Linked DNA regions of Homo sapiens: region 2 is linked to region 1. A link means that fine-mapping ties the variant in region 1 to the expression of a gene that starts in the linked region. Tissue or cell type: whole blood. Region 1 holds a variant in brackets; the other region holds the start of a gene. All regions are shown on one strand. Distances are from middle to middle.

Evidence for each region. PIP is the estimated chance that this variant, and not a neighbour inherited with it, causes the effect.
Region 2: DDX6 starts here. The variant in region 1 is fine-mapped to the expression of DDX6 in whole blood (TOPMed, PIP above 0.99). The same link has a PIP of 0.9 or more in blood mononuclear cells, nasal epithelium and tibial nerve.

What each region holds. Positions count from the first base shown.
Region 1 is chr11:118,716,568-118,724,668 of GRCh38, forward strand. It overlaps LOC124902766 (endogenous retrovirus group K member 7 Env polyprotein-like), which reads right to left. Exons shown (of 3, transcript XR_007062912.1): 1 at 7,128-8,101; 2 at 3,626-5,508. Among named protein-coding and RNA genes, the nearest start is that of TREH, 41 kb to the left of the region's middle. RefSeq lists enhancers at 1-642, 643-1,448, 2,257-3,062, 3,101-3,842, 4,583-5,323. The variant A/AG (reference allele first, on the strand shown) is at 3,639.
Region 2 is chr11:118,787,908-118,796,001 of GRCh38, forward strand. It overlaps DDX6 (DEAD-box helicase 6), which reads right to left and starts at 3,257. Exons shown (of 14, transcript NM_004397.6): 1 at 3,191-3,257. RefSeq lists enhancers at 1,857-2,414, 1,873-2,052, 3,363-3,472, 4,089-4,644, 5,033-5,142 and silencers at 2,253-2,332, 2,963-3,292, 3,743-4,032.

The sequences.
Region 1 (8,101 bases):
ACAGGCGTGAGCCACCGTGCCCGGCCTTCTACTCCCTTTTTTTCCTGTGCAACATGTGGATTCAGTGAGCTTAAACAAAGCCGCAAAACAAAGTGACCATATCCTCCCTCTTTTTTTTTTTTTTAATGTTCCCTTTCCCCTCCTGCCTGCTTTTTCCCCTTTACTTTTTATTTTTATTTTTTGAGATGGCGTCTCTCTCTGTCACCCAGGCTGGAGTGCAATAGCGTGATCTTGGCTCACTGCAACCTCCGCCTCCCAGGTTCAAGCGATTCTCCTGCCTCAGCTTCCTGAGTAGCTGGGATTACAGGTGCATGCCACCACACTCGGCTAATTTTTGTATTTTTAGTAGAGACAGGGTTTCACCATGTTGGTCAGGCTAGTCTCAAACTCCTGACTTTGTGATCCAGCTGCCTCGGCCTCCCAAAGTGCTGGGATTACAGGCCTGAGCCACTGTGCCCGGCCACTTTCATGCACGTCCGTGTAAAGAGACCACCAAACAGGCTTTGTGTGAGCAATAAAGCTTTTAATCACTTGGGTGCAGGCAGGCTGAGTCCAAAAAGAGAGTCAGTGAAGAGAGATAGGGGTGGGGCCATTTTATAAGATTTGGGTAGATAAAGGAAAATTACAGTCAAAGGGGGTTGTTCTCTGGCAGGCAGGAGTGGGGGTCACAAGGTGCTCAGTGGGGGAGCTTTTGAGCCAGGATGAGCCAGGAGAAGGAATTTCACAAGACAATGTCATCAGTTAAGGCAGGAACGGGCCATTTTCACTTCTTTTGTGGTGGATTGTCATCAGTTAAGGCAGCAACCAGCCATCTGGATGTGTACGTGCAGGTCACAGGGGATATGATGGCTTAGCTTGGGCCCAGAGGGCTGACATTCCTGTCTTCTTATATTAATAAGAAAAATAAAATGAAATAGTGGTAAAGTGTTGGGATGGCGAAAATTTTGGGGGATGGTATGGAGAGATAATGGGGGATGTTTCTCAGGGCTGCTTCGAGCGGGATTAGGGGTGGCGTGGGAACCTAGAGTGGGAGAGATTAAGCTGAAGGAAGATTTTGTGGTAAGGGGTGATATTGTGGGGTTGTTAGAAGAAACATTTGTCATTTAGAATTATTGGTGATGGCCTGGATACAGTTTTGTATGAATTGAAAAACTAAATGGAATAAGAGAAGGAGAAAAACAGGTATAAAAGGTCTAAGAATTGGGACGACTCAGGACATCTGATTAGAGAGTGCCTAAGGAGATTCAGCATAGTCCTGCCAGCAAAGATTATTTATTTACTTCAAGAGGTAAGAGTGGCAGTTTGGGGATAGCACCAGGAGATATCAGCTGTGATGGCTTAGAGAAACAGTGTAAACCGGCAGTGTAAACAAGAGCAGAGCATGTATGAGTAGTTGAGAACGGTGAATAGGAGTATGACTAGACAGAAGATAGTAGGGATGACAAGTTTTTTTGGGGGCACGGTGGAAGTTGGTCTGATGTCTGGAATGAGACTGGGGCCTAATAAAAAGGAGCATCTATACAGGAGCTCAAATGGGCTGTACCTTGTAGCATTCTGAGGACATGTCTGACTTCTGAGAAGGGAAAGTGGTAAAAGTATTGTCCAGTCCTTTTTAAGTTGGTGGCTGAGCTTGGTGAGGTGTGTTTTTAAAAGACCTTTAGTCCGTTCTACTTTTCCTGAAGACACAGGACAGTAAGGGATATAAAGGTTTCACTGAATACTAAGAGCCTGAAAACCTGCTTGGCTGATTTGACTAATAAAGGCTGGTCTGTTAACAGACTGTATAGAGGTGGGAAGACTAAACTGAGGAATTATGTCTGACAGAAGGGAAGAAATGACTGCGGTGGCCTTCTCAGACCCTGTAGGAAAGGTCTGTACCTATTCAGTGAAAGTGTCTACCTAGACTAAGAGGTATTTTAGTTATCTGACTCGGGGCATGTTGAGTAAAGCTAATTTGCCAGTCCTGGGTGGGGGCAAATCCTCGAGCTTGATGTGTAGGGAAGGGAGGGGGCCTGAATAATCCCTGAGGGATAGTAGAATAGCAGATGGAACACTGAGAAGTTATTTCCTTGAGGATAGATTTCCACGATGGAAAGGAAATGGGAGGTTCTAAGAGGCCGGCTAGTGGCTTGTACTATAGCATAACCTGCCTTTGCTGGTGTGTGGCGATTAGGCCTGGTGGAAACCACCATCAATAAATCAAGCGTGATCAGGGTGAGGAACAGGAAAGAAGGAAATATGGGGAAATTGGGTGAATGTCAGGTGGATCAGAGAGATACAGTCATGGGGGTCAGGTGTGGTATCAGGAATAATGTGGGAGGCCGGATTGAAGTCCGGGCCAGGAACAATGGTAATTGTGGGACTTAACAACGAGTGAGTACAGCTGAAGGAGCCAGGGAGCAGAAAGTATATGCGTCAGGTATGAGGAAGAAAATAGATTTTGGAAGTTATGAGAAATGTAGAGAGTAAGTTGAGCATAGTTTGTGATTTTGAGGGCCTCTAAAAGTATTAGGGCGGCAGCAGCCGCTGCACGGAGACATGAGGGCTAGGCTAAAACAGTAAGGTCAAGTTGTTTGCACAGAAAGGCTACAGGGTGCGGTCCTGGCTCTTGTGTAAGAATTCTGACCGCACTAACCATGCCTAGGAAGGAAAGGAGTTGTTGTTTTGTAAGGGATTGAGGTTTGGGAGATTAATCAGACATGATTAACAGGGAGAGCACGTGTGTTTTTATGAGAATTATGCCGAGATAGGTAACAGATGAGGATGAAATTTGGGCTTGACTGAAGTAATGGGGGCTGTCTGTGAAGCCTTGTGGCAGTACAGCCCAGGTAATTTGCTGAGCCTGATGGGTGTCAGAGTCAGTCCAAGTGAAGCGAAGAGAGGCTGGGATGACGGGTGCAAAGGAATAGTAAAGAAAGCACGTTTGAGATCCAGTACAGAGTAATGGATTGTGGAGAGAGGTATTGAGGATAGGAGAGTATATGGGTTTAGCACCATGGGGTGGATAGGCAAAACAATTTGGTTGATAAGGCATAGATCCTGAACTAACTTGTAAGGCTTGTCTGGTTTTAGGACAGGTAAAATGGGGGAATTGTAAGGAGAGTTTATAGGCTTTAGAAGGCCATGCTGTAGCAGGCGAGTGATAACAGGCTTTAATCCTTTCAAAGCATGCTGTGGGATGGGATATTGGCATTGAGCCGTGTGAGGGTGATTAGGTTTTAATGAGATGGTAAGGGGTGCATGATTGGTCACCAAGGAGGGAGTAGAGGTATCTTATACTTGTGGGTTAAGGTGGGGGAATACAAGAGGAGGACGCAAAGGAGGCTTTGGATTGGGAAGAAGGGCAGCAATAAGATGCAGCTGTAATCCAGGAATAGTCAGGGAAGCAGATCATTTAGTTAAAGTGTCTCAGCCTAATAAGGGAACTGGGCAGGTGGGGATAACTAAAAGGAGTGCTCAAAAGAGTATTGTCTAAATTGGCAGCAGGGTTGGGGAGTTTTAAGAGGTTTAGAAGTCTGGCTGTCAATACGCACAGCAGTTATGGAGGCAAGGGAAACAGGCCTTTGAAAAGTAGGTAATGTGGAGTGGGTAGCCTCCGTATTGACTAAGAAGGGGAAGGACTTACCCTCCACTGTGAG[A/AG]TTACTTAAAGCTCGGCATCCGCGATGGTCTACGGGGCTTCCAAGGCGATCAGGCAGCATCAGTCTTCAGCTGCTAAGCCGAGAAGGAGTCAGTCAGAGAGCCTTGGGCCAGAATTCCAGGGGTTCTGGGAGTGGCTGCCAGGTGAGTTGAACAGTCCGATTTCCAGTGGGGTCCCGCGCAGATGGGACACGGCTTAGGAGGAATCCTGGGCTGCAGGCATTCCTCGGCCTGGTGGTCAGATTTCTGGCACTTGTAGCAAGTTCCTGGGGGAGGAGGTTCTGGAGGAACGCCTGGCCACTGCGGTTTAGGCGTTTGGAAGTTCTTGTGGGCTGGAGATGTGGCTGGGGTTTGTCTCACAGTAAAGGCAAGGAATTGCGACTTTTTTCTATTATTGTACACCTTGAAGGTGAGGTTAATTAAATCCTGTTGTGGGGTTTGAGGGCTGGAATTTAATTTTTGGAGTTTTATTTAATGTCGGGAGCAGATTGAGTAATAAAATGTATATTGAGAATAATACAGCCTTTTGACCTTTTAGGTCTAGGGCTGTAAAGCATCTCAGGGTTGCTGCCGAACGAGCCATGAACTGGGCTGGGTTTTTTATATTTGATGAAAAAGAGCCTAAACGCTATCTGATTTGGGATAAAGAAAAAGGAGCATTAACCTTGACTATGCCTTTAGCTCCAGCCACCTTTTTAAGAGTAAATTGCTGGGCAGGTGGGGGAGGGCTAGTCACGGAATGAAACTGTAAGCCGGACGGGTGTGTGGAGGGGAGGTGATAAAAGAATTATAGGGTGGAGGAGCAGAGGCTTGAAGGGGTGGGTTGCCCCTCCACACCTGTGGGTGTTTCTCGTAAGGTGGAACGAGAGACTTGGAAAAGAAAAAGACACAGAGACAAAGTATAGAGAAAGAAATAAGGGGACCCGGGGAACCAGCGTTCAGCATATGGAGGATCCCGCCAGCCTCTGAGTTCCCTTAGTATTTATTGATCATTCGTGGGTGTTTCTCCGAGAGGGGGATGTGTCAGGGTCACAAGACAATAGTGGGGAGAGGGTCAGCAGACAAACACGTGAACAAAGGTCTTTGCATCATAGACGAGGTAAAGGATTAAGTGCTGTGCTCTTAGATATGCATACACATAAACATCTCAATGCTTTACAAAGCAGTATTGCTGCCCGCATGTCCCACCTCCAGCCCTAAGGCGTTTTTCCCTATCTCAGTAGATGGAACGTACAATCGGGTTTTATACCGAGACATTCCATTGTCCAGGGACGGGCAGGAGACAGACGCCTTCCTCTTGTCTCAACTGCAAGAGGCATGCCTTCCTCTTATACTAATCCTCCTCACACAGACCCTTTATGGGTGTCGGGCTGGGGGACGGTCAGGTCTTTCCCTTCCCACGAGGCCATATTTCAGACTATCACATGGGGAGAAACCTTGGACAATACCTGGCTTTCCTAGGCAGAGGTCCCTGCGGCCTTCCGCAGTGTTTGTGTCCCTGGGTACTTGAGATTAGGGAGTGGTGATGACTCTTAAAGAGCATGCTGCCTTCAAGCATTTGTTTAACAAAGCACATCTTGCACAACCCTTAATCCATTTAACCCTGAGTTTGACACAGCACATGTTTCAGAGAGCACGGGGTTGGGGGTAAGGTCATAGATTAACAGCATCTCAAGGCAGAAGAATTTTTCTTAGTACAGAACAAAATGGAGTCTCCTATGTCTACTTCTTTCTATACAGACACAGTAACAATCTGATCTCTCTTGCTTTTCCCCACATTTCCCCCTTTTCTTTTCGACAAAACCGCCATCGTCATCATGGCCCATTCTCGATGGTCGCTGTCTCTTCGGAGCTGTTGGGTACACCTGCAGACTAACAACAGACAAAACAGGCACACAAGGATTAATATGAGATTTATAATTGTAGTACTTCCGATGGTCTTAACCCAAGTGACAGGGTTAAGATTTGCGAGGCCATCAGCAACTCCTGCAATTGCCTCAGTTCCTGGCACCAAATTTAAATGGGCTTTTGATGCTTCAAAAATTTTTTCTTTTAATTTGGAAATGTCTAAAGTGAGATTATCTTCTCTTCCCTGTAGATGGTGTCTAACCATGTCCCAGTGATGCTCAGACTCATTATAAATTTGGGGTGTAATACAAAAGTCTGACGTATTGCAGTCACACTGTAACTGGAAACGACGTTCTAAGCTCATGAGTCTGTCTCCTATCCAAATGAGTTTGTCTAAGATGATTAATTTGATTTGCCAATTTTTGATCAATACTAGATTGTGAATTCCACAATCTTGCAGAATTCTTTTGCCAATCATTAACAAAGTTTACCGACTGAACAGAAGAGTGCAATGCAACTCCTGCCACAGCAGCCGTAGCTGTGACTGCAATTAATCCCATAATCACTGCAATTAAAGTAAAAATGAATCTTTTGGATCTATTTAAAATGCCTTTTAATACTTCAGTCAAAATATGGATGGATGGCGAGGCCTCCCACGGTCTGTCCATGGACACAGGGATCCACACGCCTTCTCTTGCTCTCACCAGCAGAATACGCTGCTGCCAATTAAAAGTTGAATCAATGCAAGTAAACAATCTACAATTTTCACAGGTTATAGTTTGGGAGTCTGGTTTAATAACTATATTTCCTACAACTAGCATATAAGGGGGCTTTACGCAACTCTGTAAAGGAACCGTTAGACTGGAATTTAGGTCGATAGTATAAAATGGCTTACGATCTCTTGTTTCTGAAGTTTGATTTCCAGACCAAATTCTAATGTGGTGTGAGGCCACAATAAGCCTCCATAATTCTGGATGTTCAGGACCAGAAACAGGACTTATTATTTTTGGTCTTGGGGTAGAGATTCCTTTTTCTCCCCATTCCCAAGGGTACAAAGACTGTAATTTTTTATGCTTATGTTTGTCTAGACTTTCTGTTAAGTCGCTATCAACAGCTGGACTCACTTGTGCACTTGGACACAACTGAGTTTGTCCTGAGCAATTGTGATCGAATTGACCTCGAGGTGCCCAATCTATAATAGTTCCGAATTCATTGTTTTGTAATATCACCGCACTATTGGCCACACATTCTTCCCAAACTAAAACTTCTGTATTTTTTGATTCTTTGGGAATTTCCTTGGGGCAAGGTTTTCCTTTAGGTCTAAATTTTAATGATCTTTGATAAGAAAAGTCCTGTAAATAATTTACTCGTGGCCTGAGTGACATCCCGCTTACCATGTGATAAGTGAATCTACCGTTAGGACTGACAGTAGGTACTTCTACCAACCAATTTTGGACTGCATGTATTAAACATCCTGGTGCTCTCCCTAGGCAAATAGGATAACGATACCCAGTGGAAATATTTATCATTATCCCTTCTTCCTCAGGTTTGATAGGGCAGCGATCGTCTGTGGGGCCAGGTACCCGTACACTATCATTAACATATACTTCTATAGGATTATCCATCCATGTGACTGGTGTTACCATCTCTGTGGAGGCCCTTTTCTTTGCATCTCCGATGGGTTCATTGTAGAACTTCAAATGTCTAGTGGGTATCCAAACAGGAAGCTGATTTTCTCCTGGTGAAACACAAGCAAACCTCTCCCCCACGTTATCACCTTCCCTATTTCCCATGTCTTATTTTTATTATCTTTCCACCAAATTAGTTTTCCTTCATGTGGGCTGTTCTTTTTACCAGTAAGATGTTGTTCTGCAGAAGTAGTAGTCTGATTTCTATAAATGTTTAAAAAAATTTAAAGTATAGAGTGCTAGATTAAGTTGCATCTGAGGAGTGGTACACTCCTTACTGTCTCCCCCTTCTTTTTGTTTAACTAATTGAGTTTTGAGTGTTCTATTAGTTCTTTCAACTATGGCCTGTCCTTGGGAATTATAAGGAATTCCTGTTGTATGTGAAATTTTCCACTGACTTAAGAATTTTTGGAAAGCTTTACTACAATATCCTGGTCCATTGTCAGTTTTGATTTTTTCTGGAACTCCCATGACAGCAAAACAAGACAATAAATGTTTTTTAACATGGGAAGTACTTTCTCCTGTTTGGCAAGCTGCCCATATGAAATGTGAAAAGTATCAACTGTTACATGAACATATGATAATCTTCCAAATGAAGGAACATGCGTGACATCCATTTGCCATAACGCATTAGGACACAGACCTCTGGGATTAACTCCTGCCTCTTGAGTGGGCAGGTGTAAGACCTGACACTGGGTGCAATGTTGTACAATATCTTTTGCCTGTTTCCATGTGACATCAAATTTGTTTTTTAATCCTGCTGCATTTGCATGAGTCAAAGCATGAAGTTCTTGTGCTTTTATGAATGCAGATGATACCAGTAAGTCAGCTTGTTCATTTGCTTTAGTCAAAGGCCCTGGTAAATTAGTGTGTGCTTGAATATGAGTAATATAAAATGGGAAATTTCTTTTTCTTACAGTTTGTTGTAA
Region 2 (8,094 bases), 71 kb after region 1:
ATTCCTGTTTAAAAAAAAATCCGCGGAAGACTAAACACACTAGTAATTTTAAGAAAACTTTCCAAGAAATCCAGAGTAGTAAAGCTAATTAATAGTTTAAAAAAAAAAAAAAGAACTGGTAGGAGGGGCACGGTAGCTCACGCCTGTAATCCCAACACTTTGGGAGGCCAAGACTGGTGGATCACCTGAGGTCAGGAGTTCAAGACCACCTGACCAACACGGTGAAACTCCGTTCCACTAAAATACAAAAATTAACTGGGCGTGGTGGCCCTGTAATCTCAGCTACTTAGGAGGCTGAGGCAGCAGAATCACTTGAACCCAGGAGGTGGAGGCTGCAGTGAGTCCAGATCATGCCATTGTACTCCAGCCTGGGCAACAAGAGCAATACTCTGACTTAAAAACAAACAAAGCAAACAAACAAACAAAACCCACAAAACTAGTCAACCTCAGTTTAAAATTATCCCGTAAATGGAAATCTTACTTACTTTTATTTTTTATTGTATTTTTTGAGACAGAATCTTGCACTGTCACCCAGGCTGGAGTGCAATGGCGCGCTCTCAGCTCACTGCAAGCTCCGCCTCCTGGGTTCACGCCATTCTCCTGCCTCAGCCTCCTGAGTAGCTGGGATTACGGGCATGCGCCACCATGCCCAGCTAATTTTTGTATTTTTAGTAAAGACGGGGTTTCGACATGTTGGCCAGGCTGGTCTTGAACAACTGAGCTCAGGTGATCCGCCCGCCTCGGCCTCCCAAAGTGCTGGGATTACAGACGTAAGCCACCACGCCCGGCCTATTATTTTTGAGACAGAGTCTCACTCTGTTGCCCAGAGTGGAGTGCAGTAGCCCGATCTCAGCTCACTGCAACCTCCACCACGCAGGTTCAAGCGATCCTCATGCCTTAGCCTCCCAAGTAGCTTGGTGGGATTACAGGTCTGGCTAATTTCTGTATTTTTCAGTAGACACGGGGTGTTATCAAGTTGGCCAGGCTGGTCTTGGACTCCTAACCTCAAATGATCTGCCCGCCTTAGCCTCCTAAAGTGCTAGGATTACAGGCGAGAGCCACCGTGCCCGGCTGAAATCTTACTTTTAATTGGAGTTAATAAAAACATACAAAGACACGAAAACAAAGCCCTACTCTGTTGGCTTTTGATTTAACCCCGTTACACTTTTTTTTTTTTTTTTTTTTTGAGGCGGAGTCTCGCTCTGCCGCCCAGGTTGGAGTGCAGTGGCACAATCTTGGCTCACTGCAACCGCCGCCTCCTGGGTTCAAGCGATTCCCCTGTCTCAGCCTCCCGAGTAGCTGGGATTACAGGCGCCTGCCACCACGCGCAGCTAAATTTTTTCTATTTTTAGTAGAGACGGGGTTTTGCCATGTTGGCCAGGCTAGTATCGAACTCCTGACCTCAGCTGATCCGCCTGTCTTGGCCTCCCAAAGTGCTGGGATTACAGGTGTGAGCCACCGCTCCCAGCAACCCCGTTACATTTCTTATATAAAATACACTAGCTTACGAGTGCTGATTCTTTCTGCCATACACCAAGGCATGTGAAACTCAAAATTTTAAAGTCAACAGATCTCAACATTTATGAAGAAAATGCTCCTTGATTATGCCTTCCTTAAAAAAAAAATGAACAAGTTGCTCACAAGCAAATCCTGATTATCACATACACAAAGCTGTTTACTTCAGACTCTGACCTCTTAAGCAGATATGGTTAACAGCTACTTTCCTGTATTGACGGTTTTATATTATGATCAGCGATATCACGCAGTTCACAGAGACTTAGCTGTTTGCAGAGCACTAAGAGGATGAAAAGGGCAACCTCTAAAGACCGAACGATATCATCATTACTGTCCATCATGCACAGTAAGACCTCCTATATCCTTAAATCCAAAATGAGACTATGTGATAACTGCTCCCTTCTTAAACTGAAACCTGCACTGCAGCTTTTTCTCAGAGAAGGAAATATTCCTCCTACCCCTTCCCAATTTAGATTTGCAAGTTTTCTACATTTTCAAAAACAAAAAACAAAAAAACAAAAAACAAACAACAAGAAACGTAGACTAGTTGGGAGGAGCCCCTAGCGGAGTTAATTACAGCACTTCACAGATCGTAGTTAGCAATTGACAGTTTCACACCCAAAACAGTATCGTCATCGCCAACAAGAGCTTTTGTTTGCAAATGCAGCGCAGTTTTTCTAGCTTTGCCTGCAAGTTGGAGTGACTGGGTTTTATTCTGAAGGGAAATGGGGGCTGAGGAAGAGAAAGGAGAGAGATACGGGAAAGAGTCATTGACTAATGACTGGAACCCCGTAACTGAAAGGAAATTTCTTGTCCCCCCGCACCCCGCCCCACGCCCCAAACACACACACTTCTGACCATAAACACAAAAGGTTGGGGCTCTGCAATCTTATCTGCGCAATATGAGCCAGCAACCGCTCCATTAGTAGCAAACAATAGGGACTCCCCCAAGGAGGCCCCAAATGGACCCCCTAAACCAGAAATCCCCCTCCTTTCCTCCAAGAGTCGGGGGCTCCATAAATACCCTCTTGTTATTGACCCGCAAGGCCTACTGCAATCAAGCAGCGGCCGGTTTGCTTCTAAACCGAGCCCTCCAATACAGCATGTCCCTGCCGCCCCCTATAGGGCCGCCTCGTACCCTATAACCTCCACCATCATCCCCCTAAGTCCTTGCCGCCCCCTTCGGCCTCATATTCCCTCATCTTCGATAAAGCTACTCCGAGTACTTAGCCTGTTCCTCCTGCCGACCCTGCTGCGCACCACATTCCTATATTCGCCTCCTCTCAGGCGCTCCCACCCCACACAGCTGCCGACCGCCTTCCTCCCCAGGCCCGGCCAGGCCTTAGGCCTCCGCCCGAGAGTCCCCCAGAGCCGGCCCGGGGGGCTCCCCACAGCCCCCAAAGCACCGCTGACCTCGACCCCACCACCTCACCCCAAGCCTCGCGACTCGGGCCCGTGTCCTACCAACGAGGCCACTCCCGCTCGGCACCCTCGGTCCTTTATTGTTGACTCGAAGCTCCCAAAATGGCGGACGCTCCTTCCTCCTCGGAAACCTCCGCCCGCCCCCACCCAGCCCTCTCGCTACGGCCTCCTCTCGCCCCCGCCCCCGCCCCGCTCCGAGGGGCGCGCAGGCCAGCCGCCCGAGCCGCCGGCTCCCCCGGCTGTCCAGCCCTACCTCCTCCGCTGCCCGCTCTCGTGGCGCCGCCGAAGTCGCCGCCTGGCTGAGCTAACTCGGCTCCTCTGCCCCCTCCCTCGCTCGCCCGTTCGCCCGCCCGCCGCCTCCTCCCTCTTTCCCTGCCTCTCCGCATGGCGGCGACCGCGGCTCCTCCTCCACTCAAGATGGCGAAACCTCGGCCGCCGCGGCTATATTCGCCGCGGCGTCACTGCCTTCCTGGCCTGGTGGTGAGAGGAAGTCGGGCCGCGAAAGCTTCCTGAGGAGAAAATGGAGGGCCCTTCTCTCACACCGACGAGAAAAGTTCGAGGGGGAAATACGAGTTCCTTTCTGAAGGGACAGGACGGCTGCTTTTCCACAGCCGCGACGTGATTGAGAAATGGTGGCTGGCAAGGGTAGGCCTGCCTTCGCCCCTCCAAAGTAAAAATCGGGAGTTGAGACCAGAGGAACATCTCTTTATTACATGACTAAGGATATGTTTTGAAAACTGGCCCCCGGGCAGCTGCTCGGGGACAGGAAGCTGACCTGACTTCTCCAGCTGGCCGGGGAGGCTGATGCCGGGCCTAAGGGGCCGCGTCCGAGCCTCTCGGGGCGCGCCTCCATGCAGGAAGGCGCGGAACTAGCGACCCGGAGACGCCGGGCGCGCGTCTGAGTGTGGGGGCAGGAAGGGGGGCCGACCGGGCCCGGAGGCCGCACCAGGCAGGAGGGAGGACTCCAGAGAGTGCGCGGGGGGCGCTGCGCGGTGGGACGGGGCGAGCCTGTAGGGCGCGCCTGGCGGCGGGTAGGCTCCGGGCTTGAGGGTGCGCCTGGGGGCGCTGGTTGTGGGGGAAGGCACCGGGCTTGAGGGTGCACCTGGGCGGGGGAAGTCTTCGGGCATGAGGGCGCGCCTGCGGGTGGTATGGGGGGGTACACCGAGCTTGAGGGTGCGCCCGGGGGGCTCTCATGTGAAGGGTACCAGGCTTGAGGGCGCCCCTGCGGGGGGCGCAGAGGCACCGAGCTTGAGGGTGCGCCTCGGGGGTCTGCGGGGGGAAGGCACCGGACTTGAGCGTGCGCCGGGAGAGGACGGCGGGGGACCGGACTGTGAGGGCGTATCTTGGGGGACCTGTCTAGGAGGAACCGGGAGGTGAAGGCACAACTGGGGGTGAGGCGGGGGCAGGGGCCGGGCTGTGAGAGTGCGACTGAGGGGGGATTACTCCGGAGAGCACGGAGCTGGGGGCGTTGCGCAGGTGGAGTGGGGAGGCCTGGTGGAGAGGGTAGCAAACCGAGAGAGCGCACCGGGGTGGTGGGGGGAGAAGCTGGACTGTAAGGTGAAGAGTTAGTAGGGCGCAACCGTCTTCTCCTGCCCTCGAAGGGCAAGACTGAAGAAAGTAGGGGCGGAGGAGGCCGGGCCCTCCACTAAAGGGAGGGAAGCTAGTGAAGCGTCAGTTATAATAGAAATAGGAATTCAGTAAGGAAATGGAGAAGCTTAAGGCAAAGGGTGACTCTCCGGCCTGACCCTCACTATGAAGATATTTATGTATGTTCCCATAATACTTTTCAGATCCCAATGTCTGTGTTTATCCTTGACAGAAATAATAGAACTGCTGTCTTCTTCCAAGTTAAACAAAACTTTGGAGCTAAAAGCTAGCTAGGTCAAGAGAAACAAAATCTAATCCTCACCCAATTGAGAGACTGAATATACAAAGAATGGCCAAACCTAACCATGACCTCCTACCCATAACCTCTTCAGTAATCGGCCAGAAGGGTCAGGACTTAATCTTTAACCGGCAGCTTCCCTATTTCTTGCCCCTGCTTCCAGCTCTGGGCCAATCAGAGAAAGCCAAATGTGCTCCTCACACCAATCGCGTAAGAAGCCCTGCTTCTAGTATAGCCCTCCTCCAACTTCCCGATGCCAACATCCTCCAATCAGAGCCAACCTGAAGTTTCTCCCTTTTTTCAGTATATGTAAAGCTTTTCCACTCCCCTGCCTGCCTATGAGTCTGTTAAATCAAGTGATGGGTCGCGGCTGACTCTTGCCAGCTCTGAGTAAATAGCCTATTCTCATTTGGTGGTCGTTATTTCTACACAGCCGGTGGGAAGGTGGTGGAGAATAGTGAAGACTATTCTTAAGGTTAAAAAGAAGGTTCGGCTTACATTTTTTTTTTATTTTAAATTTACAGCATGGCGTCTCCAGCCCAGGTTTTAAAATACCTTCTAATGTAAGGAAATAGCCCTGCACCTTGTGCCCATCCTAGAGAGAAAATGGTTTCTTAATAAAAAATGTATGAGGCCTTTTTTGCCCCAATATCTTCCCAAGCAGAGGAATGTGAAGGGGGGTTGGGCCAAGAAGTGAGTGGTAGGAAGAGAGGCCTACGGATTTAAAACAGGCCACTGCTTGGAGGGGTGTCTTTCCTAAACCACTGAAGAAATTGAACCAGGCAAAGGAAGGGGGTTCACACCCACAAATAAACTATAACCTACAAAAGGAGCCCGGGTTCACATCCACAAATAAATTGTAACCTACACAAGGAGTCTGGTTGAGGTCACAAAACAAAAGCCAGGAGGCAACCAAAAGTAGAATATGAAATAGGTGCTGCCTTCTCACCTAGGAATCCTTCCAGGGCTAAAACCTTCAAATATTCTGCTTTTAAGGTAGTCAGATACCCTCACAACTCATTTACATCAGCCCTTCTCTGTTTTCAAGTGAGAAGCATAGATGGTTTAGAATTAAGCTATGAACTCTTGGATCTTTTCTTCCAAGTTTAGTGTTAGTGGTAGATAGGTCTAGTCCAACTATCTCAATACATTGTTTTCTCCCTAGTTAAAACAGATTTGCAAGAATCATTTGTATGACACTTTAGGAATACAGATAAATTGCTAGTGCAAATAATATCCTTATATTTATAAAATATATGTGTACTTTTAAAAAAGTTATATGAATCCAATCCTCTGGCCTTTTAGTTAGTATTGAGTGTGATAGTTGTGGGAGATCTGTAGTAAATACGGTTTCTGAAGGGTGTGCTATCATCCCTAATGAACTCACCTATTAATTGTGGTAAAGAGTTTTTCACTTGGGCTGGGCACGGTGGCTCACGCCTGTAATCCCAGCACTTTGGGAGGCCGAGGCAGGTGGGTCGACTGAGGTCAGGAGTTCCAGACCAGCCTAGCCAACATGGTGAAACCCCGTCTGTACTAAAAAAAAAAAAAAGAAAAAAAATAGCTGGGCATGGTGGCAGGTGCCTGTAATCCCAGCTACTTGGGAGGCTGAGGCAGGAGAATCCCTTGAACCTGGGGAGGCGGAGGTTGCAGTGAGCCAAGATCGTGCCATTGCACTCCAGCCTGGGCAACAAGAGCAAAACTCCGTCTCAAAAAAAAAAAAAAAAAGAAAAAGAAAAAGAAATGAAAAAAAAAGTTTCCCAACATGTATTAGCCGTTTTCATGTTGTCTGTATTCACCTTTGCGTCATCACCCCTCTTCAATTTCCTCCTGGAATTCAATCACAGTAATGGGTTATCTCAGCATATATTATTCGCCAGTCTCACATCCTGACCTCATTTATTTACCTAAAAATAACCAGAACGAAAAAAAAATCACAGATTAATTTACACTTGATTTCACTTTAACTTCAATTTAAAATACTTAGAATCCAGAATTCCTAGTAAGTTGAACCTGGAATACGCAGACCTGTGATAATATCTTAAACACTCAAATGTTTTCAACTTGCTGAAATGGAGTTCACACTTTTAACATTCTGGGCTTTTTTTTTAAAAGGGACTATAATACTTTAACTCAAATTACAATCAAATGTGTTCATTACCTATAAGAAAAAAATTTTACCTATCTCATATCTTCAGTGAAATGATTATATCACATCTGGCTAAGCTTTACCATTTGGTATTTGCCCTCTTTCAAGTGATTTGCAGTATAATACTTTGATTTCCCAAAATTTCAACATACAAAGTTATTTTCCAAATATGCTCAAGCAACATCTGATCATCACTAACAAGACTAAAGGCTAATATGCCCAAGGAGCCAAGTCCCGTTTTCTTGGGACTTCATAGCAGGTAAAAATTGCCTTTTCAATTTATACACCTGAAGAAAGTGAAGCAGCATCAGTCACTGAGGGCTTAGTAGAGATGTCCTCAGAGAGGTGCACATACTGCGCTGAAGTTGATGCATACTAAGCAGGCGTGCTTAATCACTGAGAGGTTACATCAGGCACATTTTGTTGGAATAAATGTTCCAACCCCTGAGTAAACTCAAATTGAAAAGTAGGAAAGTTGGCCAGCGCGGTGGCTCACACCTGTAATCCCAGCACTTTGGGAGGCCAAGGTGGGCGGATCACGTGAGGTCAGGAGTTCGAGACCAGCCTGGCCAACATGGTGAAACCCCATCTCTACTAAAAATACAAAAATTAGCCGGGTGTGGCAGCATGCACCTGTAATCCCAGCTACTTGGGAGGCTGTGGCGGAGAATTGCTTGAACCCAGGAGGCAGAGGTTGCAGTGAGCTGAGATTGCACCACTGCACTCCAACCTGGGTGACAGAGTAAGACTCTGTCTCAAAAAAAAAAAAAAAAAAAAAAGTGTAGGAAAGCAATAGTACAAACGAGGAGGGGAGTGGGTGAGTTAAACACATTTTCCCCAAACTGCCAGGTTTACTTTGCAGAATTTGTATTCTCTTTCACAGATAACATAACCCTCATTCCCAGCACACCACAACCAAGCTAGCTAGCTGGCTCAGCTCACGGTGTCCTTCGGCCACATCGGGACTCAGCATGGTATATGTTCTGGTCATCACCCAGAGAATTCTAGCTATTCATTTTGACTCTTCAGTTTCGCTAAGATGACTGCATGCCAGCAATTTTAACTTATTTATTAATTTGAAAATAATGTGTGGCTGGGCCGGGCACAGTGGCTCACGCCTGTA